4 linked regions of the Homo sapiens genome follow. The protein of the gene in region 3 interacts with the protein of the main gene of each other region in a pairwise test. Each region holds a gene or a part of one and is shown on either strand. Other genes may lie near its edges.

Region 1 (7,395 bases), on a different chromosome or scaffold from region 3:
TCACATGGATCAGATTTGAATTCTAGCTCTTTACTTCCTGTGTGACCTTCCCTAACTTCTCTTTGGTCTTTTTTCCCCATCTGTAAAATGGAGGTATTACTAACTACTCAACATAAAATAGGTAACTGGTTTAGTGAGAAGTCTCAAATCATTGGAAGTATATACTCAAAGTTTTTTCTCCCCCAATAACACTGCCAGCTGTACACTGTTGAAAATCCCCTTTTCCACTGAGTACATCTCAATCCAATTCCCCAACATTTTGAACATTTTCAGCTTTCAACAGTCCTCTTCCCCACCAGGGCAGGTCAGGTAGGAGGCTGTGTGTGGGTTTGTGTGTGAAGGCATGATCTGCTTTCTTGAATCCACACTTCCAACCTTCTATTTACTGTTCCAGTGTCTGAAAAAGCAGGCAGGGAGGGAAGAATTTGTCTTCTTATGCACTGTCCAGGTTGCTGTCCCAAACAAGTAAATGATCTTGTCTCTTTTCATACGCTCAGGATGACCAGGTGGTTACCATAATAAGTTCCATTGACAAAGATGTCAGTCCTAAGCAGTTCCTGAAAACATTGATGGTCCTTTGGAAGACTTCATCTGTTGGCAGAATTCTATCCCTCCCACACCCACTTCCTATCCCAAGGACTGCTTCAGTGGTCCATATCATACCTTCTTTCTTATTGGTTATTGCAACCCAACTCTGGAGTCAAAGGTACAGGTGAGATTCATTTTCTGTACCTCCCAGGAATCAGGGACTTGAGATAAGGTGTCCTTGTCTTGGCCTCGCCATACCACCTAGCTACCTCTCCCTAATTTTCCTTCCTTTATTTTGGTAGCACTGGGTAGGAAATCACAGCCTAGAATGAAGGTTTCTATGAACTTGGCTCCCAAAAATTTGGTATATATTTGTTAAGAGTGTACTATTTCACCATAATTCCTGGACTAATTAGTAACCCCAAAGGGTCAGGAAAAGATCCCAGTCACTACTTTATTCTGATACATGTATATAAATTATCATCTACAACTGACCTGGCCTATACCAATGAATGTTATTTTTTCTTGGTGAGCTATAACAGTTACATTTCTAAATTGTATGTTTGTCTGTATTACCAATATAGGATGTACACATACACTGTTCTAACTATTTTACAAAGATTAACATGTTTAAACCCCACAGCAATCCTGTGAGGCAGTTATCATTATAATCCCCAATTTACAGGTAAGGGAATTGAGGCACAGGTTAAGTAACCTATTTGTTTTCCATTCACCTATTTGAATTCTACCTGCCAGGGATCCAATTAAGATAGTCAAATCCATCTTCAAAAGAAAGAGTGTTTTTTTAAATTATAAATGATTTTTGGGATTACAACAATCCACAAATAATTGGATAACTTGTCACCTTTGTGATCTGGAAGAGGTTGTATAGCATGGTCCTTGATACACACTTGATATACAAGAATTGTCTAGTCCTTGGAATCTTTTAGAATTCATTCATAAATCTCTTTCTATGTAGTAGCAATAGTTCTTTAGGAACTATTTCAATTGTTATTGGTTGGTTTACTTTTCCTACATATTGTTGGGTTCTTTTGCTATTTATATATTTTATATTTTTGTAAATATAAAGCTCTCTTGAGCTTTCCTCATATTATGCATGGGGTTTCCTTCTCATTTTATTTATTTTTTAGAGGCAGGGTTTTGCTCTGTTGCCCAGGCTTGAGTGCGGTGGCACAATCATTACAGCTCACTACAGCCTCCAACTCCTGGGCTTAAGTGATTCTCCTGCCTTGGTCTCTCAAAGCACTGGATTACAGGCATGAGTGACTGCACCTGGCTCTTCTAATTTAAAAATATCACTTTTATTCATTGTCATATCCCTCTTCAGTTCTGTAGATGATGTTTGCACAATCTGATAAATTTGAATCAGAAAAACACATGTAAGATAGCTCAACTTAATCAGTTCAAAGATTTATATACAAATTTAAGAATTATAAATGCAACACTTATTTTTCAGTTTTAAATAATGTCTTTTTTTGAAATGAGACATTTTAAACAAATAGTTTAATATAGTTTGGTATTAAATGTGGCATTTTTAGTACTATTTTCTTCTTTTGTGATCTAGTTTATATTCTTAAAAAGTCCCCTCCCAAAACATTAAATATCCTAATTTCATCTGAGCAATGATACTTATACACACACACACACACACACACACACATACACAGAGTCACTATTTTCATTACTTATATCTGCACAGAACAACTGCCAAGATTGAGGTTTATTGAGGTTCAACGATAACTGTCTTTGCTTTTAAAATTCTCCTTGTAGTCCTAACACACTGTCACAACAAAACAAAAATATGGCAGTTTACCACATGGGGTTTAGTAATGGTTAGATAGTCCTTAGGTTCTCCAACTTGTGTTATGATAAATTTTAATCATTCTGAAAACCATGGCTGTATCATACCATGTACATATCATCCATGTATCATGGATTTGGGGGGAAGCATTAGTTCAGTATATACTCAGAATTCATATGATTAAAAGAAATGGATACTTTAGCAACATAATATTCTCACTTAGTATTTCAATTAGTTCTAATTGCATTAGCCCTCTATCCTCCCAAGTTTAATTACTAGGGACACAAAAATTTCATATTTGGTGCCAAGTGCCAAAAGAGCAACATGTTTTTACTGTTTGCTTTTACTCTGTAATAGATATTGAAATATTTTAGATACTTTCACCTTCGCATGTACTTTTTTTGTGTGTAGTAGCATGCCCTTTATATTGATAAAAAGATGTAGAAAACCCGAGTAAACGATTTTCTTTAAACACTGTTTAGAATTAGGAAATTGGCAGTTTTGAAATAATAAGTGTATTTTAAACTCGCAAAGGCCAAGATATTTCTGTAATATTTTATACACTTCTTAGAACTGCATCACAAATGAATTTCAAAAATTCTGTTCCTGAGACTGTGGTAACTACAAAGCATGAAAAAAAAATCTATACATAGTGCTATAGCTTCTGCTAATTTTCTTTTTGGGACTTAAAAAAATCTATCCTCTTCAAGTGTTAGATAAAACGAGCTAGTGCACATTAAAATAATAAAAAGGAACCAATCACATTCGTCTTTCATGTTTCTGTATCTTTTTATCATCAGAAACAGCTGACCCTTGGCTAACATTACATGATTTGGAGAAATAATTGGAAGTCTACCACAGGGAGACTAAATGTAAAACTCCAATCAGATAAATTACAACACGGATGTGGTAAGTGATAGAACACACACCTAAATCTAATTTAACTTCCAAGAATTTTAAGTAGTATTTCCCAATTAAAATGTCTTTAAGGGAAAAATGCAAATATGAGGCCTTTGTTAGCAAGATTCCAGAACAGGAAAAGCGGAACTCAAAGCCTCTCTAGTTAAGCGACCTGCGTTCCGACTTACCTCTGAGTGATGGGCCTACTGCAGAGCCCGCCTCCCACCACAGTGCTGGCCCAGAATTTTTTATACGAACTAGTTCGTAACTAAACGTTGGAAGCATCACCATATTGCCAGTGAGAAGTAAGATTTAAAAATAAAACGATGCTGTCCCTTTTCGCCCTTCCTTAGGACGTCTCCTCCTGCACTAAGGGTTCAGGTGAAGGGTGGAAACTGGCCAAGAAGAGGAAGAACGTGAAGGAGTAGGGGGCAAGGAGGAAAGGGCTCCCTTTACAGACTTTGGTGCCATTTTTACTTTCTGCTTGCTAATCTGAAACGTTGTGCGATTACAATGACGGCCCCTCTCCCCCTCGGGTACTAATTACCCCCGGGCCTTTTCCGGTGCACATCCCGGTGCTATATTCTGGTGCCTGTGTTGCCCCCACGCCCCCATTAAATTAGTAAAGGAAAACCACCCCTTTTCTGCCCCTAAAGTAATCTATAAACGAAGGAATACAGATGAGGATTTAAATCCCAATCCTAATTCCAAGGGAGGCTGGAAGCCCCCTCAGCCGCGCCCTGGCTTGGCTTTTTCATCTCGAGCGGTTGTGACGCCAGGGGCAGGTCTTCCACGTGTCTTCACAGAGGTGCCCGGAGGGAGGGCGTGAGGGATTACCCAAGGGAGGGGCGAGTATCGCAAAATAGGCCAAGTCGCTGCCCTCTACTCAACTCGCAGGGCGGGAGGATGGAGACAGAGGGATGCGGCGGGAGGGCGGGACAGCCCAGTCGCCGCCAAGGAGGCGAAGCGGGGTCGGGGTAGCTCACCCGCCCCCCGCAGTCCCCGCCCCCCGCAGTCCCCGCCCCGCGCGGCGCCGCGCACGCCTGAAGTCATTGCCCGAGGCCCCGCCCCCTCGCGGCCCCAGCCCCGGCTCTGGCTCTGCCGGCGGAGGGGGCGGAGAGAACCCGCAGCTGCAACTTCGCCTGGAGCCTTTGAGCCTGGGCTCAGCCGGGGATCTAGCAGCCGTCACCGCCGAGTCGCCGCTTCCCCGGCGCGGGCCTCAGCCCAGCCGGCTTGGCCATGGCAGGCGCCGGCAGTGCGGCGAATCTGGCCCCTGCGCTCCCCGCCCGTAGCTGAGCAGCCGTTAACCAGCCATCCCGCCTTTCCTCCTGCCCGTGTCGCCGAGGCCCACGCTCCGCGCAAGTTTCCGCCGCCGAAGAAGCAGGAGGACGGACGTGAGGAGTCGGGCGTCCCTGGCCCACCCGGCCCTCTCGCCCGCGATGTGGGGGCGCTTCCTGGCTCCGGAGGCCAGCGGCCGGGATAGCCCCGGCGGAGCCCGCAGCTTCCCTGCCGGTAAGGAACGGGACAGCGCCCCGGCTGGGGTGGGGGTCACGGCCGACCGCGGCGCCTCGGGACCTCGCCGCCGCTCCCCTCCCGCCTCAGGCCTGTCTTACCCCGGCCGCCTCCCCGACGCCGCCGCGTGCCCAGTGTCCTCCCCGCTGTCAGCACCCGGGCTGACATATGGCTTGCCGCGTCCCAGGCGCATCAGCCCCGCATCCCGTCGTCCCCGCCGCTCCTCCTTGGGCTGCAGCCCCAGCGCCCCCAACTTCCAGCTCGCTTGGGCCCCCGCGGGTTGGGCTTTATTGTCTGCCCGGTTTTTTCCTTTTACTCGTGGGGTGTGTGACCTGCGTGATAACGGGGCTTGCCCGTTTGCTCGCGGGGACCCGGGCGGGAAGGTCGCTGCGACAGTGCTGCGGCGGCGGCCCGGGCGCGTCTCGGAGGGGCCGCAGTTCCGCGCCCTCCCGACTTCTGGTAGGCGCAGGCTGGGGTTGGCTGTGCCCACGCCCGCAGCCGCTACTTTTAGGGCGCGTTTTCGGGAGGGAGGATGCTGCCAGAGATGCGGCCGCTCTCAGCCACCCCCAAGGGAACTTCAGCCCCTCGGAGGAACCTGGTCGCCGCCCCGCAGCCCCTGCGGCGTAAGAGGAGGGCGCGTCCTGCAGTAGCCAATGGACCATTGAGCAACCGGGTTACGAATCCGTTTGGCTTTCCGTGGCCCCTTCAAGGAAAATTAGGGGTTTGCTGCATTCCGTATCTGAAGGGGTCTGTTTGTATCGGACAGCCATTTCATGCTTGCGTCGCTCAGAAGTTGTGTAGGAGCCACAAAATTAGGATAAATCCTCCCCTAACTTGGGATAAAAAATAAGTCTTGGGTTGCCTGTGATATGTTCTCTAAAGATGATGGTCTTTCCAGGCACTTTTAATCTTGAGTTTTGAGGCCTTTTGAGAAACTGAGTTATATGGACATTCTGCGCAGAAAAAACAATGCCATATATACATACGCAAAATTTTCCCTACAATTTTAGCTGTTTCTGGGACTCCTGTTAAGTAACCTTGCTCCACAAAGTGTTTGAGCTCGACTTGTGTAACTTAGAGATATTTTTGCATACATTTCCAAAGCTGTTATTTACAAAACAAAAAAGCAGAAGCAGCATTTGGAAAGGGGTCTTTTGATGGTAATATTTTCTGCTATTTAAAAAAAATCAGGCACTGACCGAGTCACTAGTATCAGGCTATTGAAATTTCGAATAATGCAATTCTTTGATAGTTTAGATATTTGTGATGTGTGGTTTTTAAAAAGACATATGTACATTTTAAAAAGCCAGAGTTAGATTTGAATCATTCACTTAAGTTTGGTCCTGAAACACTTAATGTATGTTAATGAATGATTTGAATCATTCACTTAAGTTTGATCCTGAAATTTAATGTAGGCATGAATTTAGTAAAAAGCAGTATTAAGTAGGGATTTTTTTTTTCTAAATTGTATGTTATTTGTCCTAAGGAGACAGTTCAGAGGTTTCCCGAGTTTACAGATTATTCACAAATCCTGTCATCTAAGTAACTTCAGTGATTGAGAAGCTACTTCATTATCCCTAGGGGCTGGAGGGAGTGGTTTCAGTTTATCTGAAAATGTCAAAAGCCATCTGTAATGTCTTTGCAATCTAACCTATTAAAATTTATTCGTGATAATAGCAGCTTGTTTGGAGGTATATCACTGAGGCATGGTGTCTATTTTTCATTGTTTTCTAGGAAGAAGAGAACATTTTAGTATTTAAAGTTAGGTAACGAAGGACTTTGTTATGTTGCAGCCTCTAGAGAGACATTTGCTATGGCATAGAATAATAGTGGAAGAGGATACTTTGTAATTACTACCCTAATTGAAGAAATTTGGACAGTATAGCTGTACCAAAGTATGTATTTTATCTCAATTTGTCAGTAATAAACTATTGACAAGTCAGGACATGCCTTTGTAAAGTTTTTTTTCAGTTACATGCTGAAATAGTAATGTAATTATTTATTGTGTTTCTTCCCTTTTTGAGCAAATATAAATATTTAAAATTATCTTAGATAATTTTAAGTTTTAAAAAGTTCTACCTTAGATGAAAAACTTGTGTTGCTTCTTGTGCAAGTGAGCAGATGGTGAAGGTCAAGATAATGACCTCTGAGTTGATTCATGTAGGGACCTTTTTTCCTGATAATTGGAAGGAAATTTTTATTTTTGAAATATTGTTCAGTATATCTTTTGAATAATTTGAGCAATTATTCCAGCCCTAAAATTGGACTTGTCTGAAAACAAAGTGTGAAGGCAGGGATAAGTAAATAATTTCTGGTATTAAAATGAGTTTATCTTAATATGTGGATTAATTCAAGCTGTCCTGAAACTGGTTTATTTGTTTATACAAATATATAACTAGACTAAAGGAAAAGCCAAAGGTACTATAGAACCACTTTAGTTTTTTTTTTTTTTTTTTTGAGACAGTCTTTCTCTGTCGCCCAGGCTGGAGTGTAGTGGCGCGATCTCGGCTCACTGCAAGCTCCGCCTCCCAGGTTCACGCCATTCTCCTGCCTCAGCCTCCCGAGTAGCTGGGACTACAGGCTCCCGCCACCACACCCGGGTTATTTTTTTGTATTTTTAGTAGAGACGGGGT
Region 2 (7,028 bases), on a different chromosome or scaffold from region 3:
TATCCATCGATCGATCAATCAAAGGGAGAAGGCGCTCTGAGTCTGACCCTAACCCCAGCACCCTCGGAACGCCCCCTGCTCTGCCCTCCTCGGCCACTAAAATGCACTCATCCCAGGCTGCCTCCCAGACGCAGCTCCCCAGTGAGTCCCTGGGCTGTCAGCCCCTCGACACCCCCTTCTCAGCCTGGACCCAGTTATTTGTGGGCCTTTATTCCTGCCCTCCCTTTGGCTTATCAGATCTCACTACGGCTGAGGACCGGCTCGGGGAGCCCTGTATACCGGCCCCCTCACCTCCCTGGGGGTGCCACCTCTAGAGGCTCGCCAAACGATCAGATACTTGAGGGGGTGCCGGGGGGCTGGAGTCCAGGACAGGCGGATGCTGGAGGAGGTCACCTGGCTCAGGACCAGGCTGGTGGGGGCAGGGAGGGTGTCCAGGGCTGGAGCCGCTGCTGCTGGAGTAGCGGGAGTGGGGGGCAGGTGGTCACTGCACGGGCAGCTGTGTCCACGCTCCCCCTGGTGGCCACTCACAGGAGGGACAGGAAAGCTGCTCCCCAGCCCTTCTGTGGACAGATGTAAGGGGGTGCTGCAGACCCCCTCAGAGCCACAGGAGCCGGCCTCAGGTACCACACGGGAGCCACAGCGTCCCCCCAACCCTTTGCCCAAAGCAGCCGGGGGGGCTGCAGCCTGTGCGGGTGACCCTGCCCCTCACCTGGGCCCTGCCGCGGGCTCCCACCCTGGAGCCTCTGGCAGATGAGACGGCTGAGCAGGCCAGCCAGCGCGCCGAGCTGCAGGAAGTCCAGCACGCTGTGGACGGTGATGTCCCTCGGCGGGGACGCCAGGAGCCTCAGCTCAGCCTCATCGGCGTTCTTCACACCTGCTCGTGAGGAGGGAGGTGGGGTTGGCCTGCACTGGGGTCACCCGACGGGGCCACCTGCGGTGGGGGTCTCCATGGAGACTGGGTCAGGAGTAAAGAGGCCTATGGGCTGTACTCGGCCCACCTGCCACCCACATGCTGGGCCAGGCGCTCCCGAGGGGTTGGGGGCATCAAGGAAGGGTCTGTGCTCCTGGGACTCCTGCCTCGAAATCTGGGGTTTCCTCCCCACAGGACAGAGTTGATTCGCCTGTGAGTCCCAGGCCCTGGAGGATGCCAGGAAGCTCCTTGCCAGGGCACAGCAGGCGGGAGTCACCAGGCACAGGGATGGTGGCCAGAGGGGGCAGCTGGAGCTGCTCAGTGAATATCTCACCAGGGAAGTTCACGCCACAGGGGGAGGGTTGGGGTGGTTCCACGGAGGGCACCAAACACCAGGCGATTGGAAAGGAGCAGCCCGCCTGTGCCATCGCCTCTGAGTGCCAGGCGGTGCCTGGCTCTGCGTGCAGCTCCGTGCCGCAGATGTGGAAGCTGGGGCTCAGGGACCAGGTGCCCAATGCAAGCTCCCTGCTGCGACCCTAAACCCACCCGGCGGTGAGACTCCAGGGCCGGGGGAGCCGCATGGTGCTCACCCACAGCGAAGACGTTCACGCCCAGGTCCTTGAGGACACGGGCAGCAGTGTGCACATCGTCCTGGGACTTGCCGTCCGTCACCAGAATCACCACCTTGGCTGCCTCTGGACGGAGGCCAGCCGCCGGCTGCAGGTTCTGCCCCAGCACGTGGGTCAGGGCAAGGCCTTGGGAGCAGCAGGAATAAAGTGACAGGCAGCTGCCAGCATCCCCTCCTGGTGCTCGGCTGGCAGCAACCGGACAGCAGAGATGCTCCTCTCCTTCCCTTGTGGGGTATCAGGAGGCCCCGCAGCAGCCCAAGGGAGCAGGGAGGGTCTACCTGTTGAAGGGCCCCAAGTTCCCCAGCCAGACCCTACCTGCAAGGTGAGCACCCAGACTGGGCCGGGTGTGGACCCAGCCAGAGCTGCTAATGTGGAACAGAGGAGCCACGCGCTGGACACAGGCCCTCGTTTTCATCAAAGGTAAACAAGGGGGTGACTCTGCCCTCTATAAAGGTGTGAACAGGGCTCAGGTCCACACCACTTGGAGCTCGATTTACACACAAGCTTTCGGGATCTGGGAGGGCGGCAGAAGGAGGTCCGCCCTCAGGACAGAGGGAGGGGCAGGCCTGGGCCGTACCTGTGAACGTGTTCCCCCCCTTGTAGCGGAGGCGGCGCACAGCTGCCAGCACCTGTTCCTTGGTGCTGAGGGAGTTCAGGTCCCACTCAGTCTGAGCATCCCCGCTGTACTGAGTCAGGCCTGGGGAGCAGGGGCATGGCCACGGGCTGAGTTTCCAATGCTGAGATGCCCAGGGAGCTTGGCACAAGGCCACACCTGAGAGCTGCACGTGCCTCTGTGGGGTCACCTGGCCACAGTAGCCAGTCCCCAGGGAGAGGACGCTTGCAGAGCCAGGGCCTCCACACGGAGGGGTCCCCAGAACACCCCATGTGGAGCAGGCGTCCCACCCCACAAGGTGAGAGCCCTGGCTGGTACGGGGACCCCCACAGGTCACAGCCTCCTCTGGCAGAGCTGTGGGGACCACACCCGGGTGGGGCAGGAGGCGGGCCGGGCCAGCACCCACCTACTTGGACCTTATCCGGCCCGATTTCAAAGGGTGCGATGACACTGGCCAGGAAGTCCTTGACCTGCTGGAAGTGACTGTGGCCAATGCTCCAGGACCCGTCCACCAGGAAGACCATGTCAGCAGGCACGGGGGGCAGGCAGCGGAACTGGGGGCCGGCTGGGGCGGTGGGAGCGGGTCAGGTGCTAGGTGAGGCCCATCCCTGGTCCAAGGCCCCCAGATCACCTACCCCGGGGCTCCAGCCACAAGAGTGAGGCAGGCTGGGCCAGGTTTCAGGGGAAAGGACTCCAAGGCCCTCAGGCCTCACCGGACTAGACAGCCCCACACCGGCACGGCTGCACATCGAGCCACCGCTAATGTGAGGCAGCCTGGTGCTCGGGCACCTCTGCCCTCCACGGCTGCATGCAGCTGCCCGCCCAGACATCAGGCCCAGAAGCCCACCAGGTGCAAACCAGGCAAGGAGGGGAGGGTGGGCACCACAAAGAGCCCCAGCAGAGCCGCCGTGAGCACCGCAGCGCGGCGCTGTGGAGGCAAAGCCGCCATCCCCGGTCTGGCGCTCCCCGGGGTTTTGCAGGAGCAGTGCCTGGTGAGGCGGGCCCCAGAGCCAGGGCCAGACCCCCGGGGAGATGCCTGAACGAGGCCAGCAGCCATCACGGTGGAGCCCCCCGTGGGGCGACCGAAGAGGCCCAGCTGCCCTGAGGCCTGCATGGGTGGGGACACTCCCCTGGGGGAGCCCAAGTCCAGGGGACCCAGCAGAGCCCAGCACCCTGAGGGGAGGACAGCAGCGGACCCGAGGACCCTCTGGAGGGGATATGCCCAAGTCTGAGGAGAACACTTCCTTCAGTTCCAAGTCTGACGGGGGAGGTAGAATCCTGCTTCTGAGGACCCCAGTCTGATGGAGGAGACAAAGCCAGGCCCTCCCAGTTCTATGGGGAAGCCCAGCCCTGCCTACGGGGGCCTTATGGGCAGACACAGTGCACTGCCCCCGTCTGTGCCCACCCCTTACCTGGCTTCTCTTCTGTCCTGGTGTGGCTCTACCTCTCCACGCCTGGGGCCGGCTGGGCAGGGCCCTCCCTCCAGGGCCCCCGGACCAGCTCTGCTCCTGATCCCACTCCTGGGGGAGCATGACCCACCCCTCTCACCACCCCCTAGACCCAGGCTGGAGGTTCCCAAAGGGGTCAGAGGTAGTGGGACCACCTGCTCCCAGTGGCCTGGCTTGAGTGAACCTGGGAACATGGCAACTTTAAGTTAAAGCCAGAGACCGTGTGGTCAGACACGAGGAAGAACTTCCCGGCCTCGTGGTCAGAGACCGTGTGGTCAGACACGAGGAAGAACTTCCCGGCCTCGTGGTCAGAGACCGTGTGGTCAGACACGAGGAAGAACTTCCCGGCCTCGTGGTCAGAGACCGTGTGGTCAGACACGAGGAAGAACTTCCCGGCCTCGTGGTCAGAGACCGTGTGGTCAGACACGAGGAAGAACTTCCTGGCCTCGTGGTCAGAGACCGTGTGGTCAGACACGAGGAAGAACTTCCTGGCCTCATGGTGGGAAATGTGGGAAACCAAAGGTCACTCCCTCCCCGGAGACTTACTCTCTCTCCACTCTGACCCACCAGGAGTGCGCGGATCCTGGCTTGGTGTGAAGGCAACTTGGGGCTCAGAAGCCTGCTCAGGGTCTGGGCTCCCCGTGTGGGAGGGGGTGGGCTCCGGGGCTCCAGAGCCGAGGGGCCTCTGGCTGCTCCTGTCCAGGGAGCTACTCTTCAGATCCTCAACTGCAGGGAGACACAAAGAGCCATCAGGGTGGGAGTGGAGGGCCTGGTCCACTGGGGCAGCTGCACATACACCCCTTCAAGGGCGCATCTGTGGGTGCTGAGGGCCCAGGAGCCTGGGAGGCATGCAAAGATGTCAGGGGCAAGGCAGCCTTGCTGGTGAGTCGGGACTTGAACCTGCCCCTAGCACAGCCCAGAACTGCTTCACACATACCCACCCCTGGGGCTGGAACGCAGCCTGGAGGAGGGTGGGACCCCAGCCCAGAGGAGGGTGGGACCCGGCCTGGAGGAGTGGGTACCCAGCTGGCAGACGGTGGACTTACTCACAAACTCCCTCCGAGCTAGCAGGAAGCGCCCAGAGCCAGTGAGCTCGAAGATCTGCAAGGTGTAGCCCTTGGAGGGGCTCAGGCCCCCCACTGTGGCCTTAGGGGTCTTGGTGGTCAGTATCACCTCCTGTTCCGAGTCCCCTGGGTAGGGGTGGGGAGAGCTTTAGAGGCCAAGGTGCACACGTGTGTGCATCTGTCACGGCGGGGAGTGAAACCCTCTTGGCTCCTCCTCCCCACCCCAGCTGCTCCCCTTGAAGCCAGAGAGACAGAAAGGGAGAGGGTCTGATGGAAGGGACATGGGCTCCTGGGTAATAATGTGACAGAGAATGGGGGTCTTGGGGCGGTGAAAAGAAGATGTCACTTACTAAACCCCCCTAGAGGAATCCGCCGCATGGTGAGGTGAGAAGCCATCAACCCTCAGAGATACTGTCAAGGTATGAAGACAGGGCTGCCCAGGGAGGGGATGACGACCCGAGGGGCCAGGTCCAAGAAGGAAGAGTCCGGGGCCAGGGCCCTGCCCACTCCCACAGGCTCCTACCCTATGGGCTGCACGGACCGACCAGCCGCAAGTATTTTCTGCTGTGTGACTCCATGATTCTAAAGTTAGGTCTGGATTTCAAGTGTGAAAAGCAAACAAATGATTCCAAAGGGGACACTGCCATATTCTCAGAGGAAAGAGCAAGAAGAAATGGCCTTGAAAGAGCACTCAGGAGGCAGCAGTCAGACCTGGAGAGGCACTGTGAGCACTGGGTGATTCTCTGGGTCTCAAGTGCTAAGGCAAGGGAGAAAAGGGCAAGAAATCCACACTTGCACACCTCGAGGGAGGGAGGGAGGGAGGAACCCACACCTGCGCACCTGCAGGGAGAAGAGGAGGGAGGAACCCACACCTGCACACCTGGAGGGAGGAAGGGAGGGAGGAACCCACATCTGCGCAGCTGGAGGGAGGAAGGGAGGGAGGAACCCACACGTGCACACCTGGAGGGAGGAAGGGAGGGAGGAGCCAGCACCTGCACACCTGGAGGGAGGAAGGGAGGGAGGAACCCACACCTGCGCACCTGCAGGGAGAAGAGGAGGGAGGAACCCACACCTGCACACCTGGAGGGAGGAAGGGAGGGAGGAACCCACACCTGCACACCTGGAGGGAGGAAGGGAGGGAGGAACCCACACCTGCACACCTGGAGGGAGGAAGGGAGGGAGGAACCCACACCTGCGCACCTGCAGGGAGAAGAGGAGGGAGGAACCCACACCTGCACACCTGGAGGGAGGAAGGGAGGGAGGAACCCACACCTGCGCACCTGGAGGGAGGAAGGGAGGGAGGAACCCACACGTGCACACCTGGAGGGAGGAAGGGAGGGAGGAACCCACACATGCACACCTGGAGGGAGGAAGGGAGGGAGGAACCCACACCTGCACACCTGGAGGGAGAAGAGGAGGGAGGAACCCACACCTGCACACCTGGAGGGAGAAGAGGAGGGAGGAGCCCACACCTGCACACTGGGAGGGAGGAAGAGAGGGAGGAACCCACACCTGCACACCTGGAGGGAGGAAGGGAGGGAGGAACCCACACCTGCGCACCTGCAGGGAGAAGAGGAGGGAGGAACCCACACCTGCACACCTGCAGGGAGAAGAGGAGGGAGGAACCCACACCTGCACACCTGCAGGGAGAAGAGGAGGGTGGAACCCACACCTGCACACCTGGAGGGAGGAAGGGAGGGAGGAGCCAGCACCTGCACACCTGGAGGGAGGGAGGGAGGAAGGGAGGGAGGAACCCACACCTGCACACCTGGAAAGAAAAGGGACACCATCCTCCCTGTGCAGTGAGTGGCTCCCCACAGCCCTACCCAGCCCCGCGCCAGGGAGTGACCAGCCAGGGAGGACCCTCTGTTCTTGGCTGAGCAAATGGGAGGCAGGGGTGTTGTCATTACCATCAACAGCTAACTGTTATTGAGTTTTCACTGTGTGCCTGGCAGTATCCTAAGCATTTCACAGGTATCAAGCCTCATAATCTTCACAACTCCATTACACCCATTTTATAGATAGGAAAACTGAGGCACAAAGGACCAATCACACAGCTACTCCGCAGTAGAAGTGGGATAGAAGCCCAGGTCTGTCATATTCCCAAGGCTTCCTGCACAAACACGTGATTAACAAGCAATGACAATAATGAAAAAGTTTTATGACATTTAATATAAATATAGAATTTTAAAAGCCGGGCATGCCTGTAATCCCATCTACTTGGGAGGCTGAGGTGGCAGAATCACTTGAGCCCAGGAGTTTGAGTCCAGCCTGGGCAGTATAGTGAGACCCCATTTCAAAAATCAATAAATAAACACAAGTGCTTGAAAATGGGATAAATATTATTGTGATGTTCTAAGGTCC
Region 3 (7,028 bases):
AGTAGTATTTCATTGAACCTAAATGTACCACAATTTATTCATTCAGTCTCCTTTGTTGGACATAAAAATGGTTTCAAATATTTGCTGTTAAAAACAACAATGCTACAACGAACACTGTGTTTCTGAGAGTTTAACAGAAACTTTCAAAAACATCTTTGACTACCACTCATGGCAAGAAAATGTTTTGATTACATCCCAGTACATACATACTGTGTCAAAAGTTTAATAAAACAAAATTTTATCCTCATTACATGCAGTACACTATGATATTTTCTATTCTATTTTTCTCATTAAAAAAATGCTGGGTATTCAGCAAAGGTCTGACTGAAAAGAAATGCTGGGTATGACTCACTACCTCAATACATTGACTGATTTTTTTTTTCTTTTGAGACAGAGTCTCACTCTGTCGTCCAGGCTGGAGTGTAGTGGCACGATCTCGGCTCACTGCAACTTCCACGCCTCCCGGGTTCAAGCAATTCTTCCGACTCAGCCTCCCGCGTAGCTGGGGCTACAGGTGCATGCCGCCACGCCTGGCTAATTTTTTGTAGTTTAGTAGAGATGGGGTTTCGCTGTGTTGCCCAGGCTGGTCTGGAACTCCTGAGCTCAGGCAATCTGCCCGCCTCGGCCTCCCAAAGTGCTAGGATTACAGGTGAGAGCCACTGCTCCTGGCCTTGAGCCACTGCACCCGGCCTTGATTTATTTCTTGAGCTACTGGTAGGTGAGGCTCTAGGGCAGTGCCGTCCAACTGACATGGTGCAAAAACAAAAAATTTTATATTTTCTAGTAGTCATATTAAAAATGTTTAAACAGATGAAAATAATTTTAATGATCTAATTTTTTTAACTCAGTGTATCAAAAATGTTATTATAACATAATCAATATACAAATTATTAATAAGTTATTTTACATTCTACATTTTTTGGTACAAAGTCTTTGAAGTCTGGCATGTATTTTATACTTAAAGCACATCTCATTTTGGATCAGCCACATTTCAAGTGCTCAATAGTCACATGTGGCTAGTGGCTACCATATTGGACAGTGCAGTTCTAGAGTTTACATTTGGGAGTGTAACTGCTGAGTCAAAAGCTATGAGCATCTTTAACTTTATAGATATTGCCAAATTGCTGTCCAAAATGGTCTTAATTCAAACTCCCTTTTCCCCATATCCTTACTAATATTTGATATTGTCAGACTTTTAAAATTTTACAATTTTGAAGACTGTTGTCATTTTTATTTACCATTTTACTTTGGAATAATTTTAGATTTACAGAAAAGTTGCAGAGATAGTGCAGAGAGTTCCCATATACTCTTCAGGCAGTTTCATTTTCCCAAATGTTATCATCTTACATGGGTGTTGTTTTGACTTATATTTTCCTGATAACTAGTGAAGTTGGTGTACTTTCATAGATTTACTGGCTGTTTGAGTTTTCTCTTATGCACACATAAACTTTTTAGTCAAGTTTTATAAAAATGGAGCATAAAAGCCTATCCAATGGCTTTTAGCAATGGCTATAGTTCATTCCTTCTTAGGGAGAATTGACATAACACCAGTCTTTTTTGTATCACCAATCTCAATAAATTTTCAAGACCAAGGCCAGGCCTGGTGGCTCACGCCTGTAATCGCAGCACTTTGGGAGGCTGAGGCGGGAGGAATACTTGAGCCCATGAGTTTGAGACCAGCCTGGGCAACAGAGACCCTGTCTTCACCAAAAAAAAAAAAAAAAAAAAAAAAGCTGGATGTGGTGTTGCATGCCTGTAGTAGTCTCAGGAGCCAGAGGTGGGAGGATCGCTTGAGCCTAGGAGGTGGAGCCTGCAGTGAGCCTTGATTGCTCCAGCTTGGGTGACAGAGTGAGATCCTGTCTTAAAAAAAAAATTCAAGACCAGGAAGGAATAGAAATTTGTCTAGATAATTACACCCACTGGGGCTAAATAAATGTAACTCCTTTTCTGCATGTCATCTTCAACTATTTGAAGATAACTTATCTTGTACCCCGGAAAGTGTCTTCAGATTGAGCATTCTCAGTTTGTTCAAACATTCCTGATATTACCTGGTTTCTAGTCCCCTTATCATTTTGTGTGCTATCCTTTAAACATGCTCTATCCTTTTCGTGTTATTTCTTAAAGTGTGGTACCCAGAATAGAACACAATTCTCTATGTTTGATATGATCAGCATAAAATACAGTCATGTGCTGCATAATGACATTTCAGTCAATAAAGGACAGCATATACAACAGTGGTCCCAGAAGATTTTAATGGAGCTGAAAAGTTCCTATCCCCTAGTGATGTCAGAGCTGTTATAAAGTTGTAGAGCAATGCTTTATTCATGTGTTTGTGGTGATGCTGGTGTAAACAAATCTACTGTGCTGCCAGTTGTTTAAAACTATAGCACGTACATTTATGTACAGTACATAATACTTGATGGTGATAATAAATGACTATGCTACTGGTTTATGTATTCACTATACCATACTATGCTATCTTATACTATTTTTTTATCATCATCTTAGAGTGTACTCCTTCTATTTATAAAAAATAAAGTTAACTGTAAAATGGCCTCAGGCAGTTCCTTCAGGAGGTATTCCAGAAGGCACTATTATCGCAGTAGGTGACAGGTCCATGCATTTTATTGCCCCTGAAGAACTTCCAGTGGGACAAAACGTGGAGGTGGAAGACAGTGATAGTGATGATCCTGAGCCTGTGTAGGCCTAGGCTAATAATGTATGTGTTTGTGTCTTAGTTTTTAACAAAAAGTTTAAAAAGTAAAATTAATAATGTTAACAGAAAAAAGCTTATAGAATAGGGATATAAAGAAAGAAAATATTTTTGTACAGCTGTATAATGTTTGTGCTTTAAGCTAAGTGTTACTACAAAAGCGTTAAAAAGTTAAAAATAATTAAAAAGTTTGTACTTTGGGAGGTTGAGGCGGGCAGATCACTTGAGCTCAGGAGTTCGAGACTGGCCTGGGTATCATGGTGAAACCCTGTCTCTACCAAAAATACAAAAAATTATCATGGCATGGTGGCACGTGCCTGTGGTTCCAGCTACTCTGTGGTCCCAGCTACTCCATAGGTTGAGGTGGGAGGATTGCTTGAGCCTGGGAGGCAGAGGTTGCAGTGAGCCGAGATCGCACCACTGCATTGCAGCCCCAGTGACAGAGTGAGACCCCATCTCAAACAAACAAACAAACAAAGCTTATAAAGTAAAAAAGTTACAGTAAGCTAAGGTAAATTTATTATTGGAGAAAGAAACATATTCTTTTATAAACTGAGTGTAGCCTAAGTGTGCAGAGTTTATAAAGTCTACAGTAGTGTACAGTAATGTCCTAGACCTTCACATATATTCACCACTCACTCACTGACTCACCCAGAGCAACTTCCAGGTCTGCAAGCTCCACTCATGGTAAGTGCCCTATACAGGTGTACCTTTTTTTATCTTATAAAAATTTATTATTATGTTATTTGAGGTAGGGTCTCACTCTCTCACCCAGGCTGGTGTGCAGTGGTGTGATCGTGGCTCACCACAGCTTCTACCTCCTGGGCCCAAGTAATCCTCCCACCTCAACATCTTGAGTAGCCGGGAATCACAGGCATGCACCACCATGCCCAGATAATTTTTAATTTTTCTGTGGAGACGGGATCTCCCTATGTTGCCCAGGTTGGTTTCGAACTCCTGGGCTCAAGCGATCCTCCTTCCTCGGTGTCCCGAAGTGCTAGGATTACAGCTGTGAGCCACCGTACCCAGTCATTTTTAATCTTTTATATTTTTACTTACCTTTTCTAGGTTTAGATATGTTTAAATACACAAATACTTATCATTGTGTTACAGTTGCCTGCAGTATTCACTACAGTAACATGAGTTATAGGTTTGTAGCCTAGAAGCAATAGGCTATACCATATAGCCTAGATGTGTAGTAGGCTATACCATCTTGTGTAAGTACACTCTATGACGGGGTCCTCAACCCCTGGGCCACGGACCATTACCTGTCTCTGGCCTGTTAGGAACCTGGCTGCACAGCAGGAGATGAGCCCTGGGCCAGCAAGCATTACCGCCTGAGCTCCGCCTCCTGTCAGATCAGTGGCCAGTGGCATTAGATTCTCACAGGAGCCTGAACTGCCCACACGAGGGATCTAGGTTGCATGCTCCTTATGAAAATCTAACTAATGCCTGTTGATCTGAGGTAGAACAGTTTCATCCCGAAACCATCCCCCCACCATCCGTGGAAAAATTGTCTTCTACAAAACTGGTCCCTGGTGCCAAGAAGGTTGAGGACCACTGCTCTATGATGTTGGGACAATGACAAAAATCACCAAATTACACATTTCTGGAATGTATCCCTGTCCTTAAGTGATGCACGCCTGTAATCTTTCTCTTTAGATTTAGGACTGATGATTTTTCTCTTTAGATAATAATATAGCTAAGACTGAATTTGCTTTTTCTTTCTTTCATACCACGCTAGTTATTCATTTTGAACTTTTTGCCCCCCAAATCCCTCAGTCTTTTTTAAGTATTTATTTATTTATTTAGACAAGGTCTCACTCTATTGCCAGGCTGTAGTGCAGTGGCGCTATCCTCCTAGGTTCAAGCGATCCTCCCGCCTCAGTTTCCTGAGGGAATATAGGCATGCGCCACCATTCCTGACTAATTTTTGTATTTTTGGTAGAGACAGGGTTTCACCATGTTTCCCAGGCTGGTCTCCTGAGCTCCTGAGCTCAAGCGATCTGCCTGCCTACTGGCCTTTTTTCTAGATTTTTCTTTCTTTCTTTTTTTGAGGCAGAGTCTCACTCCATTGCCCAGGCTGGAGTGCAGTGGCATAATCTCAGCTCACTGCAACCTCCACCTCCCAGGCGCAAGCAATTCTTGTGCTTCAGCCTCCTGAGTAGCTATGACTGCAGGCATGCCAGGCTAATTTCTGTATTTTTAGTAGAGACAGGGTTTTGCTGTGATGGCCAGGCTGCTCTCGAACTCCTGGCCTCAAGTGATCCACCCACCTCAGCCTCCCAAACTGCTGGGATTATAGGCATGAGTCACCACTACTGGGCTTCACTGATCTTTTATATATATATATTTTCATTTTAATTTCGTTTATTTCTATTCTGGTCTTTATTATTTCTTTTCTTCAACTAACTTTGGGTTTGGTTTGCTTTTGCTTTTCTAGTTGTTTAAGATGCATCATTAGGTTGTTCGGAGTTTTTCCTCTTTTTTGATGTAGGCACTCATAGTGATAAACTTCACTCTGTATCCCATACGTTTTGGTATGCTGTGTTTCCATTATCATTTGTTTCAAGAAAATTTTCAATTTTCTTCTTCTTCTTCTTTTTTTTTTTTTTTTTTTGAGATAGAGTCTCCCTCTGTAGCCCAGGCTGGAGCGCAGTGGCACGATCTCTGTTCACTGTGACCCTGCAACCTCCGCCTCCCGGGTTCAAGCGATTCTCCTGCCTCAGCCTCCCAAGTAGCTGGGATTACAGGCACCCACCATCACACTTGGCTAATTTTTGTATTTTTATTTTAACTAATTAATTAATTAATTTTTTGTTTGTTTTGAGACAGAGCCTCACTCTGTTGCCCAGGCTGGAGTGCAGTTGCACCATCTCGGCTCATTGCAACCTCTGCCTCCCAAGTTTAAGTGATTCTCGTGCCTCAGCCTCCCAAGTAGCTGGGATTACAGGCGTGCACCACCACTCCTGGCTATTTTTAAAAAAATATTTTTAGTAGAGACCGGGTTTCACCATGTTGGCCAGGCTGTTCTGGCCAACATGGTGAAACTCCTGACCTCAGGTGAGCTGCCTGCCTCAGCCTCCCAAAATGCTGAGATTACAGGCATGAGCCACCACACCTGGTCCTTTTTTTTTTTTTTTTTTTTTTTTTAATACAGGACCTCTCTTTGTCACCCAGGCTGGAGTGCAGTGGCATGAACGTATAGGTATGCACCACCACGCCTGGCTAATATTTGTATGTTTTGTAAAGACTGGATTTTGCCATGTTGCCCAGGCTGGTCTTGAACTCCTGAGCTCAAGTGATCTGCTTGCCTCGGCCTCCAGATTACAGGAGGTGCTGGGATTACAGGTGTGAGCCACGGTGCCCAGCCTCTATATTTTCTTTTTCTATTATATTTATGATGATTGTTAGGGAGGTAGACATTAGCTAATTTGTTTCATCAAGTCTTCAGAATATAGTTCCAATGTATACTCAATACCAGCCCTGTCCAGTAGAAATATAATGTGAGTTAGAAATGTAACTTAAAATTTTCTAGTAATCACGTTTAAAAAGTAAAAATAAATAGGTGAAATTAATTTTTAATATAATAATAATTTTAATGCTATAGCCCAGCATATTCATACATTTTTGTTCCAGCATATAATCAGTATACAAAATTGCTGAGATATTTTACTTTCTTATTTTAAACTAAGTCTTTGAAACCCATGTGTATTTTACAATTAAAGCACATCCCAATTTGAACTAGCCACATTTTAAGTGCTCAGTAGCCATATATTGCTACCATATTAGAGAGTGCAGATCTAGACTAAAAAGTTTAGTAGTAAAACTCAGTCAAGATAATTGGCTTTCATTGAATCTCAAAGGACTTTATTTGTAATCTTCCCTGAACTATCTTTTCCTTTAAATACAACAATGGGATCCTCAGATTAAGAATGACAGAGTTATTAGGAAATATCCCAAGACAGGGCCACATAGTTTAGAATCATGAGCATACTTATTTTACAGCCTGTACAGAAATCTTACAGATAATCAGTGAGATAATCACTGATGCCACCTGGTATGCACCTATTAGGGGGAATAGTACAGTTTATGGCCGGGTGCCGTGGCTCACGCCTGTAATCCCAGCACTTTGGGAGGCCGAGGCTGGTGGATCATGAGGTCAGGAGATCGAGACCATCCTGGCTAACACTGTGAAACCCCGTCTCTACTAAAAATACAAAAAATTAGCTGAGTGTGCTGGCGGGCACCTGTAGTCCCAGCTACTCGGGAGGCTGAGGCAGGAGAATGGCGTGAACCCGGGAGGCGGAGCTTG
Region 4 (5,771 bases), about 17 Mb from region 3:
ATCATGAAGAACCTTATAAATCTGGCAAAGGGGGTTGGGCCTTATAAGCACTGGGGAGCCATTGCTTTAAAGGTGCTTTCAAAGGCTTTACGCTGAGGAGTGCCATGGTCAGATTTGCTTCCCAAAGATCACTCTGGTAGCCAGTGCAGAGAAATCCAGTGCAGAGAGGGTAACGTTGGAGCAAGAGAACCCAGTGGGGCTCCTGAGATACTGCCTGACACCAGATTGTGAGGCCTGAATTAAGCTGGTGACAGCAGAGATGGAGGGCACAGATACGAAATATATCAGGAAGTAAAATCAGTAGGAATCAATAACTGCTGAAATATTATAGGGAGAAAGGAATGGGGGTGGCGTGTAGTCAAAGACGGTGGTCGGCACTGATGGGCCATTCCACCTCCCTTTTGCTCCAGATGTATAACATAAAACAGTCAACAGATACCAAGGAAGCAGCAGCCATCGAGGCTAGAAGAAATCGAGAAAAAGAGCGACAAAACCGATTCTTCAATGTGCGGAACCGAGTCATGGGGGTGAGTGGGTAGTAGGGACTGTTGCTCAGGATCAGGGCCACCTCACTCTTACACCTGGAGAGGAATGTGTAACAGTGCCCATGATAGCCCTTCCCCTGATTCAAGTAGGCCCCTAGGGCAGGAAAGGAAAGAGAGGGAGAGAAGGCACCCACCCCTACAGGCCTGGGAAGAGCTTGGGAAGAGGGATAGGTCAGTGCAGGGGAAGAGACTAGGGGAGACGGCTGACCCTTCTCCAGTCAGCTCTGGGCCATGTGACCTGGTTCTTGAGACAGGCAACATGGAGCTAAAAGAGGCCTAAAGAATATTTGGAGTCCGGGTGCAGTGGCTTACACCTGTAATCCCAGCACTTTAGGAGGCTGAGGTGAGCAGATCACACAAGGTCAGGAGTTAAAGACCAGCCTGGCCAACGTGGTGAAACCCTGTCTCTACTGAAAATACAAAAATTAGCTGGGCGTGGTTGTGCATGCCTATAATCCCAGCTACTTGGGAGGCTGAAGCACAAGAATCACTTGAATCCAGGAGGAGCAGGTTACAGTGAGCCGAGATCACACCATTGCACTCCAGCCTGAGCAACAGTGAGACCCTGTCTCAAAATTACTGCATATACCTAAACTATCTCTGCAAGGCTATGTTGAGAAACTTAACCAGGCTGAGAGACAGAGATGGAAGGGACACTTACGCCTCACTAAACTGTATTCCTTTTTGTATGATTTTGAAATGTGATAAATGAATTATAATAAAAGAGAAAATATTGATAGTTTAAGAAACAAAAGATTGCTAGGTGAGTGGATAGAGGGGGGATGCAGCATGGTATTCTGGAAAAGACCCCGTAAGTATTTAAGGCCAGGTCTGCTGACTGTTATGTGTGTGGCTTTGGATAAATCACCTGTCTTCTCTGAGCCCCAGGCTCCTCTTCTGTAAAATGAGGCTGAAGGAAGTCAGGTGAGTGTTAACACAGAGTGGCAGCTTTGAAAACCAGTGCATAGTGCCTGCCGTAAGAAGTTGGCTAGGGTATTAGTGTTCTGATTGAGATCCAGCTGACAAGCTGACAAGCATTTCCTCGGGGCCTGCTCTGTGCCAAGCACTGTGTTGGGCAGTGGGGATACGAAAATGACTAAGGCCCAGTTTCTGCCCTGAAAGGGTTCACAGTCTGGTGGAGGAGAGAATACAGAGAGGCGAACATCAATATAATGTAGACAGTGGGTTCTAGATTCTACAGGAGTAGAACCTGCCTGAGGGGTCAGGAAAGTGAAGGCTGAGCTGGTCTCGAAGGACAAATTGGAATTTGTGTAAAGAGGGGAGGAAAGTGTTCCAAGTGGAGGGAGCAGCTTGAGCAAAGGCTATTGGTTCAAAACAGCCTAAGATATTCAGGGAACTGTAAGCACAGCTCATAAGGGTAAGGTGGGACTAAGAGATGAGGCCAGAGAAGGAGGCAGAGGCTAGACCATGGAGAGGCTTACAAACCATGCTCAGGAGCTAGAACTTTATCCAGTAGGTACTGGGGAGCTACAGGATTCTGAAACAGGTAAATTCTAATTAGTTTGTGGTAGGACATTGAAGGCCCCCTGCTGGGCCCCTACTCTGATTGTGCTCCTTTCTTTGGGATCAGGTGGATGTCCAGGCCCTGAACAACCAGGTGGGAGACCGAAAGCGTCGGGAAGCAGCAGAAAGAAGCAAGGAGGCAGCTTATGGTAAAAGCCAAAAGCCAGGGGCCAGACAAGGGTGTAAAGAAAGAGCTCGAGTGGGCTGAGGTAGGGCAGTTCTGCCTCTGTGGCCTGAGGCCCTGGGGTGGTGGGACAAATTGGATGGACCTTGAGAGTAGAGGACATGCTAAGTGGACTCTGTCCCTCCTGGGGTATCTTCTCCATATCCTTGCTCACCACCCCCAGGTACCAGCCAGGTGCAGTATGATGTGGTAGTCCAGATGTTAGAGAAGGAAGAGGCAGATCGAACACGTCAGCTGGCCAAGAAAGTCCAGGAGTTTCGGGAGCAGAAGCAGCAGCTCAAGAACGGGCGTGAATTTAGTCTTTGGGATCCAGGCCAAGTCTGGAAGGGGCTTCCAACCTATCTTAGTTACAGTAATACCTATCCTGGTCCAGCCAGCCTGCAGTACTTCTCTGGGGAAGACCTAGACAGGGACACACGGCTGAGAATGCAGCAGGGGCAGTTCAGGTACAACTTGGAAAGGCAACAGCAGGAGCAACAGCAAGCCAAGGTTGATGAGAATTATACAGGTAAGCAGCCCGGCCCTCCAGACTCAGAGACCTGAGGCCTAGTGGGGATCTGTCCTAAGCTGAGTACAGCAGCCAGGGGACCAGAACTGTGTGGGGAGGTCCACTTATCCATAGGGTTGGTGCTGAAATGTTAGGTTGTGCAGACCCCAACCTCCCTGACTTCCTTCAGTAACTGACAGTGTAGCATTGTTCTTGATTAGTTTGGCACTCCATTACGTGGAGGCAGCACAGTGCAGACAGACCTAATGGCTCTGCCACTTACTAGCTGGTTTGGGCAAATGAATTTTCCCTTCTGTGCTTCAGTTTCTTCATCTTTAAAATGAGAATAATAATTTATACCACATAGAGTAGCTACTATTATGATATTGTCTGTGGCCACATCCTTCTCTTCCATTAGAAGAAGCCCTTCAAGGGCAAGGACCATGTCTTATCTACTTGCACTGTTCACCCTTCACATCAACCCTGTTACAGCACTCTGTTCTGCTGGACCACTTATTGTAGTTGTAGCTAATTGTGAAAGTATTTGTTTAATATCTGTCTTCTCCCTAAAATGTCAGCCTACTGAAGATGAACCATCTCTTTCATGTCTACCCATCTCCCAGTTGCATAGTACAGTGTCTGACAGGTCTTAGGAACAGCAAGGAGCTCAGTGTGGCTGGAGCAGAAAAAAATTGTCAGTACCTTTGCTCATGCCATGCCCTCAGCCTGGAATGCCCTTTGCTCTTTTAGCCTGTATACAAAATGTATTTCAAGGATCACCTCTTCCTGGAAGCCTTCCTCTTTTCCACCATCCAAAACCCTCTTAATACCCTGTGTACATCCCTGCCATTGCTCTTGCCAGATTGTGGTCTATGTTTGATCTGTGTCCCCAACTAGACAGGGAGTTCTCTGAGGACAGGATTTAATTCGATGGTATCATTAGAACCCAGCACATGGCCCTTAGACTGAGATTCAGAGATATGAAATGATTTACCCAAAATCACACAGCTCAGAAGCAGCAGAACTGACATTGGGACCCAGGTCCATTGGAGGCATCTTTTAGTTATGCGCTTGAGAAATCGTTGTTGCTGCACCTAGTTCCTTCCACATCCCTACAACTCGGACACTAACCCCCTCCTAAACATTCGTACACACACAAACACAAAACTTGCTGAACAAATGGCTGGATGAGTGAAACAGGAATGGAGCAAGCCAGTACAGTACCCCGGCCATATTTCTCTGTGTAGATGCGCTCAGTAACCAGCTGCGCCTCGCCATGGATGCACAGGCCACCCATCTGGCCAGGCTGGAGGAGTCCTGTCGTGCGGCCATGATGTGTGCCATGGCCAACGCCAACAAAGCGCAGGTATGGCCTGAGCCATGCAGTACCTTGGGCTCTCCCCAACTCCTGAACAAAATCCTGGAGAACCTTAGCCATATTCTTCCTCTTACATCCCCTCTTAAATCAGCATCAGCCCTCTCATCTGAGTACTCCCCCTTCACTGAAGGCCCCTCTTAGGGTACAAGTCACTTCTCCCCACCTCCAGAAGCAGGATGACTTGAGAATAGAACATTGCCCTCTCATCCTCCGCTTCCCAGTCTAAAGGCTTCCTGAAGGCAGAGAAGTTCCCTGCCCATTCTCCCCAACACATATTAGGGGCATTGAAAGGCCATGCAGTATCTGTTCTTTCTCCTTGAGATGGAAGAGTAGGGCCATGTTCCCCCCTCCCCTGTGACAGAGTTCCCTGAGGTTGGGCACCCAAATGTTTGCATTTGGGGGCTCCACCAGGCAGCTGTGCAGGCTGGGCGTCAGCGCTGTGAGCGTCAGCGTGAACAGAAGGCCAACCTTGCGGAGATCCAGCACCAGAGCACGAGTGACCTACTGACTGAAAACCCCCAGGTCGCCCAACACCCTATGGCTCCCTACCGGGTCCTGCCCTATTGCTGGAAGGGCATGACTCCAGAGCAGCAAGCTGCCATCAGGAAAGAGCAGGAAGTACAACGCTCTAAGAAGCAAGCACACCGTCAGGCTGAGAAAACACTGGATACTGAATGGAAAAGCCAGACCATGAGCTCAGCCCAGGCAGTGCTGGAGCTAGAAGAGCAGGAGAGGGAATTGTGTGCTGTATTTCAAAGGGGTCTAGGATCCTTCAACCAGCAGCTGGCTAATGAGCAAAAAGCCCAGTGAGTTCTAGGTGGTAGTGGTGGAGATAAATGCCAAGGGAGGGAGAGGAGGGATGGTGAGGAACCATGGAGAGAGGGAAAGCATGTCAGCTGAGACCTCTGGACTTCTTTCACAGGCAGGATTACCTGAATTCAGTAATCTACACCAATCAACCTACAGCCCAGTATCACCAGCAGTTTAACACCAGCAGCCGCTAAGTTCAGGATGTCTATCTCTCTCTCCCTTCTCCTCCATCAAGCTCACAGGTGGTTAGGAGTCAAAGAGAAAAATGCTGCATACTCCCACCTTCTAACCTAGGTAATAAAGTTCTGCACTCAAAATCAAGTCCACATGTTGTAACAGGACACAAAGTATTATGAAGGTACTGCCTTTCCCACCCCACCCTGGAGCTCTGAGCATCCAACCCTGTCACAGCCTTCACATTTCTTCCCCATGCCAGGCCCCCTAGCACACAACACTGCCTACACTCTGTGAGAAAAAGAGACTTTATTAGGCACAGAGGGCGACTGGTAGGCAGTTACAAAATGGCTACTGGGCTTCCTCCCAAGCTGGAGAGTAGTACCCCAGGGAAAGGAAGGGCAGAGGAGCGTGTGTTTTCTCTGCCTTCTCCCTTCAAGGCTGCATACGAATGGCCCCATCCAGCCGGATGACCTCTCCATTGAGGAATGGGTTCTCGATGATGGCCTGTACGAGGTGAGCATACTCAGCAGGGTCACCCAGTCGGCTAGGGAAGGGCACTTGGCTGGCCAAGAAGTTGCACACTTTCTCTGGGAGGCTGGTCAGCAGTGGGGTGCCAAACAGACCTAAACAATATAGCCAAATTCAGAGACTCACCCTTGCTTTCAT

The links.
Region 1: the proteins of TEX11 (region 3) and CEP85L interact in binary tests that used the Homo sapiens proteins (3 or more experiments, as listed by UniProt).
Region 2: the proteins of TEX11 (region 3) and COL20A1 interact in binary tests that used the Homo sapiens proteins (3 or more experiments, as listed by UniProt).
Region 4: the proteins of TEX11 (region 3) and RIBC1 interact in binary tests that used the Homo sapiens proteins (3 or more experiments, as listed by UniProt).

What each region holds. Positions count from the first base shown.
Region 1 is NC_000006.12:118,648,564-118,655,958, reverse strand, and holds the start of CEP85L (centrosomal protein of 85 kDa-like), read left to right. Parts: upstream 1-4,367; 5' UTR 4,368-4,689; coding exon 4,690-4,762; intron 4,763-7,395. UniProt on the Homo sapiens protein: Plays an essential role in neuronal cell migration.
Region 2 is NC_000020.11:63,303,179-63,310,206, reverse strand, and holds part of COL20A1 (collagen alpha-1(XX) chain precursor), read right to left. Parts: intron 4,791-7,028; coding exon 4,647-4,790; intron 4,327-4,646; coding exon 4,168-4,326; intron 2,718-4,167; coding exon 2,559-2,717; intron 2,237-2,558; coding exon 2,117-2,236; intron 1,666-2,116; coding exon 1,501-1,665; intron 875-1,500; coding exon 710-874; intron 453-709; coding exon of another isoform or gene 450-452; coding exon 292-449; intron 1-291. UniProt on the Homo sapiens protein: Probable collagen protein.
Region 3 is NC_000023.11:70,898,684-70,905,711, reverse strand, and holds part of TEX11 (testis-expressed protein 11), read left to right. Parts: intron 1-7,028. UniProt on the Homo sapiens protein: Regulator of crossing-over during meiosis. Involved in initiation and/or maintenance of chromosome synapsis and formation of crossovers.
Region 4 is NC_000023.11:53,425,867-53,431,637, forward strand, and holds the end of RIBC1 (RIB43A-like with coiled-coils protein 1), read left to right. Parts: intron 1-410; coding exon 411-527; intron 528-2,136; coding exon 2,137-2,218; intron 2,219-2,416; coding exon 2,417-2,761; coding exon of another isoform or gene 2,762-2,796; exon of another isoform or gene 2,797-3,962; intron 3,963-3,987; coding exon 3,988-4,106; intron 4,107-4,529; coding exon 4,530-4,924; coding exon of another isoform or gene 4,925-4,928; exon of another isoform or gene 4,929-5,040; coding exon 5,041-5,122; 3' UTR 5,123-5,249; downstream 5,250-5,771. Other genes in the region: HSD17B10 (3-hydroxyacyl-CoA dehydrogenase type-2), read right to left, coding at 5,538-5,728.